2 separate regions of the Homo sapiens genome follow, and region 2 is linked to region 1. The links come from fine-mapping of genetic effects on gene expression. A gene starts in region 1. The other region holds a variant in brackets. All regions are shown on one strand. Distances are from middle to middle.

Region 1 (2,921 bases):
AGATGTGGAGAAAAGGGAACTCATACTGTTGGTGGGGATGTAAATTAGTATGACCACTATGGAAGGCAGTATGGAGGTTTCTCAAAAAACTAAAAACAGAACTGCCATAAAATCCAGCAGTTCCACTACAGTGTATCTATCCAAAGGAAAAGAAGTCAGTATATCAAAGGGATACCTGCACTCACATGTTTATCACAGAACTATTCAAAATAGCCAAGATATGGAATAAATCTAAGTGTCCATCAGCGAACAAATGGAAAAAGAAAGAATGGTATATATACATAACGGAATACCATTTGTCCATGGAAAAGAATGAAAACAGGTCATTTGCAGCAACATGGATGAACTGGAGGCCATTATGTTCAATGAAATAGGCCAGGCAACAGAAAGACAAATACTGCATGTTTTACTCATATGTGGTAGCTAAAAAAGTTGATCCCCTGGAGATAGAGAACAAAATTATGAGTACCAGAGACTGGAAAGGATGTGAGGGTGGGAAGGGGAAATGAAGAGAGGTTGGTGAATGGGTACAAACTTATAGTTAGATGGAAGAAATAGGGTCTAATGTTAGCTAGCAACTGGGGTGACTATAGTTAGCAATGATACATTGTATATTTCAAAATAGCTAGAAGAGAAGATTTGAAATGTTACCAACGTATATAAATGATAAATACTCAAGGTGATGGATACCCCAAATACCCTTCTTCTTTTTCTTCCTCTTCTTTTTTCTTCTTCTTCCTCTTCTTTGATCTCTCCTTGTTCTCCTCCTTCTCCTTGTTCTCCTTCTTCTCCTTCTCTTTCTTCTTTTCCTCCTGTTCTTCCTCTTCTCCTCCTCCTCTTCCTCTCCCTCTCCTTCTCCTTCTTGTTATTCTTTCTTCTTTCTTCTTCTTTTTTGAGACAGAGTCTCATTTTGTTGCCCAGGCTGGAGTGCAGTGGCTCGATCTCGGTTCACTGTAAACTCCGCCTCCTGGGTTGATCCTTCCACGTCAGCATCCTGAGCTGGTGGGACCACAGGCGCACGCCACCACGGCCGCCTAATTTCTTACAGAAAAAAAAACGGTTTCTGCTACCTTGCCCAGGCTGGTCTTGAACTCCCAGGCTCAGTCGAGCGCCACCCCCTCCACAAAGTGGTAGGATTATTTGCGTGAGCCACGGAGCCCTGCGGAGACTCTGGTTTTACTTTCTGCTCACCTAAGAAGCTCCTGCTGTGTCCCTAAGTGTTCCCGCCTCGCCTCTCCCCACACCCACTGCTCCCTAACTTCTCTCACAGGCCCCCAACGGCTTCCTCCTGCGCTGGCGCACGCTCAGGTCTTACCCGCCAGCAGGTGGCGAAACACGATTTTCTGTCCTCTGCGGCTGAGCCCTAGCGTCCCCTCTTCTCTAAGGCCTTTCGCCTAGTTCCAGCCTGGATACGCTTCCATAGCAAAGGGTTGCCCTTGGCTACAGGAGGACGCGGGCTGGCAGGCTTGGTTCCTGGCGAGTTTCTAAGCCCCCGCCTGCGGTCTGAGGCACCGGCTGAACCATGTCGGAGATCCTGTGCCAGTGGCTCAACAAGGAGTTGAAGGTGTCCCGGACCGTGAGTGAGTGACCACGGCCAGGGGCGAGCGTCTGAGGGGCTAGCGGGGCGCAGAGCCTGCAGCGCAGCGCAGCGCACTCAGGGAAGGTGGCGGGCAGGGCGCGAGCTGCACAGGTGGGGCACCTGCGTAGCCGGCAGCATCCCACAGTGAGCAACTCGGCTCGGCGGTGCCCCAGGTCCGTCCCGCCACCTCCCTACAGCTCACCCCAGCCAGGGCAAGGCCTTGTCACGTCCCCACTCTGCCGCTCTCGAGTTACCCTTGTCACGGTGGGCCCAACCCGCAGGCATTCTGACTTTGTGATGTGGTTCTAGGCAATCAGAGGGTTTAGGAAGGTCTCCTTTGCTTCTGTGGAGAGGGAACTTTGCTGGACTTTGTAGTCTGACCCCAACGATGCCTCCTTCACATCACCAGAAGCAGAAGCATGGTGTGGTGGCTAGTCGATGAAATATGAAGCCACTGGACAAGTTACAATACCTTCTCTGAATGTGTTTCCTTCTCTATAAAATGGACCTAATAATGCTTTCCATACTTAACTGACCAGCAGGGGAGGGTGGGTGAAAAATAAGTTAATGTAGAATATGTTAACATTTACAAATTTTAGTAAATTTTAAGCCCCAAATCACAAACTAGCTATTTCTGGTCACTATTGGCTCTTGCCCAAAGCTGACCTTATTCACCAACCTAATTTTATCCTAACCATGCAGTTGCCACCCAAAGTTTCCAAGTCTGACAACCACAGAGACAATTTTACATGCTGGCAGCTTCCTTGACTGCCCTGTAATTCTTCAGGAGTTCATTTTTCAGTTGGTTTTGTTTGTCTTTTTTTCTTTTTTTGCTTAAGGGAAGAGGTTTTCAGGGCAAGTCATTTCAGTCCATTTTCCCAGAAGAACTTGCTTAACACCAGCTTGCTACCAGAGAGGCAGTGGTGCCAGTTCAACCTTAGCTTATCTACAGAAGTTGCTAGATCGGTAGTGTTTCTGTGGGTGCAAAGTAGTTATTAATACTCTCAGCATGAGGATCTTTAGCACGGAGCATCTCCTGTTGCATTTCTTGAGGCATAAACCTCAGACTCTTTCTTTGTCAAATAACCATCTACACACTCCCTGTGAACTGCAATAAATTCTTTCCTGGTATTCTACGATTATCCCATTGTGTCTCCAACTGTTTATTTGCTAAAATATGATGGACTGAGGACAATATTTAGCATTTATTGTTTCTTATTCCTGTCTCACCATAGGAGCCAAAATAAAATATCATGCCCTTAAGTTGTACTCTTCTAAAAGAAAAGCAGTTACATATTGCTTAGTTTAATTTAGTTCATTTATTTTATTAGTAAAAACCACA
Region 2 (2,921 bases), 90 kb after region 1:
TCAAAAGGATTCTAAAGTTGCCTTGATAGCATACTGTCTCCTGTCGCTAAATTTGTGACCTAACTCCCATAATGTAACAGTTAACTAACATTAAAATTGCCCATAGACATAAACCACAATCACCATGGAAATCCAGGAGCTCATACTTAGAAAGACAAACTCCTACATCTAAATGCCTACTCCAAAAACTACCAGCATGAACCTTTCAAACAAAAAATAATCATATACTATTTTAAGAGGCTTAACATGTCATTTGACAGAATAGCAATCTTACAGAGTCTTGGTTGGGAAGCAAAAACAAACCAATTCTAACTCATGAAGGCTTGAAGCTACGGGTTAGAATCAGTTTGTTTTTGCCAACTATTAGACTCAACTTCAACATTTTCCTAAAGAGTTTGCATTCTAATATTCACTGACTACATTAATAGACTCAGTTATCACTTAAGATTTATATTTCAAACAGGTAATTAACAAATGTTTAATAATTAAAACAATAAACATTAACCTAGCCCAGTGCTCTGTATTAAACTTTCCGACTAAGTTAAAAAACTAAAAGAATGTGGTACTTCTATATTCTGACCACAATATACTGTTAAGTAGGGAAAAGCAGGTTACATATGAAATAGTCTCTTTTAAGGAAAGTGTACATAATTATGTATTAAATACATCTGCACAGAAGAGTCTGGCAGCATATATATACTTGATGATGGGGAAGGAGATAGGACTTAAAGAGACTTAACAGGCAATTCCCTTTTCTACTTGTCTTAATTCTTGGATGTTTAAAGCAATAATTATGAATAACTTTAAAAGTCAGAACTAAAACCCCTAATTTCCACTTCAAAAGAACATCTAATAGAATGAAGCCTCCTAGCTTGCTGAATTGAAAAGAGTAATCTAAGGGTGGAGTAAGCACATGTAAAGAGAAATAGTCATGCAAGAACATAGGCAATCGTCGCCAGTGGTACATTGAGTAGAGCTGTGGGCCTCTGCAGTGTGAAGGGATGGAAAGACTGGGCAGTCAGGGAGGGTGTGCCAGGAAAGGTGAAACTGCATCATGCAAGGCAAAGGGTCATCACAATGATGGGAGCCTAGAAAGACTCCAGTCAGGCATGCTCCATCCCTCCAGGCATCTGGGCTAACCATCTCCCCTGACTGGAACACTCTTTCACCAGAAATACACAAGGCTCACTCCCTGGCTTGCTTCATGTCTTTGCTCAGATGTCACCTTATGGTTGGGCATACTCACCCTGGCAGTCTATCTAAAACTTAAGAAGCTGCCCACAACACTTTGATCTCCCTTACTCTGTTCTATTTTTTTTCCATA[G/A]CACTTATCACCATCTTAACTCTTGTATAAATTAACTTATTCATCATATTTATGGTTTGTTTCCTACCACTAGAACGTAAGCTTCATAAGGCCATTGATTTTTCTGTTTTGTTTTACTGTTGTATCTCCAGCAATCAGAACTATTGTTTGCAATATTATTATAATTATTATCATTAGAAATAGTAGTAGTTTTACTTTATTCTTGTCATCCTTCCTTTTCTTCAAGGCATAATTCAGGTTCAATAAATGGTTGTTGCAGGAATGAATGAATTGCTAAGGCTTAATTGAAGATGTATGTACTGTGCAGTATTCTAAGTGCTTTGTATTCACTTTTTAAAGTTAGTGATACACATTTCTTTCCCCTTCCATTTCCTCCTCACCCCACCTCTTGTATTACATTGCCCTTTACCGTCTTTTTACACTTGTTCACTTTGCTTTCCCACTGGACGTTTTCAAACAATCTTTTATTTTTCTCCTCATCTTTATTAGCTACTTCTAGATTATCACTTTTACATTTGACACCACTTGCTAACCCCTTATACCTGCTCCGTACACACAAATACACATATATTCCTCATCACCCCCATGCCAACCACCACCATCACCACTCCTACCATCACCACTACCACACCACCACCATCACTACCACCATCCCCACCACAGACTTCACCACCTCTACCTCCACCACCATCACCTCTACCAGCACCTCCACCACCACTACCACCAGCACCATCACCACCTCTACCTCCATCACCATCACCACCACTACCCATCAACATTACCACCACTGCCATCAAAAGGCAAGGGCAACCATATTTCTGACAAGGGAGAGAAGACTTGAAATCTTAGCTTTAAGGACTAGATGATTTAAGGGAAAGCCCTAAAGCATGAATTAGCTTTAAATACGTAAGATTGTTTTATATTAATTTAGATTTCTCTTAGTTCAAGTGAAATAGTAGATTTCTAGAGTCTCTAATGAAGGTCAATTCTTATCATCCTTTTGAAGTTGAGAAGAAATTAGAAGAAAAGGAAGCTGAGAAAAAAGCAGCAGCTTCCCTGGCTGAGCTTCCACTTCCTACACCTCCTCCTGCTCCTCCTCCTGAACCAGAAAAAGAGAAGGAAATTCATCAAAGCCATGTGGCTTCAAAAACTCCTACTGCAAAAGGAAAACCTCAATCAGGTGATTGACAGAATGATTTATAATCCTGTTTTCAGTTTCTTATTTTTACTCAGTAAAGAATTATAAATTATAGTCTATCTACATTCAGACTTTGGGCAACTTCAATCATATGAAACAAGGCTTTACACTCAGATGGAAGTGGAAAAGCCCTCGGAGTAGCTAAAAGCGTAGTTGTTACAAAGCCCAACTTCTTTGCCATGTAGGAGGAGACATGGAGTCATCACACCTAGGTCTACTGATTAGAGTAAGACCACAGACGAGAAGAGGAAAAGGCACAGAGTAACAGGTAACTTCAGGCAGATCAAGAGGATACACGTCTGTGTGCTGAACTATAGAGTTACATTTATGTAATGAGTAAGAACATCTTAATAAAATAAGAATGAGTATAGCTGGTTTTCCACCAGAATAAGGGAACAA

Direction of the effects. Alleles are on the strand shown, and positions count from the first base shown. SD is a standard deviation of normalised expression in the study named.
In carriers of allele G in region 2, the expression in anterior cingulate cortex of the gene that starts at base 1,388 in region 1 tends to be higher than with A alone (moderate effect, 0.47 SD a copy in GTEx).

What was found.
Region 2: its variant is fine-mapped to the expression of SPEF2 in anterior cingulate cortex (GTEx, PIP above 0.99).

Annotation. Positions count from the first base shown.
Region 1 is chr5:35,616,476-35,619,396 of GRCh38, forward strand. It overlaps SPEF2 (sperm flagellar 2), which reads left to right and starts at 1,388. Exons shown (of 37, transcript NM_024867.4): 1 at 1,388-1,580. The coding sequence starts at 1,523. RefSeq lists an enhancer at 1,431-2,238.
Region 2 is chr5:35,706,618-35,709,538 of GRCh38, forward strand. SPEF2 (sperm flagellar 2) reads left to right here. Exons shown (of 37, transcript NM_024867.4): 19 at 2,331-2,504. Among named protein-coding and RNA genes, the nearest start is that of SPEF2, 90 kb to the left of the region's middle. The variant G/A (reference allele first, on the strand shown) is at 1,325.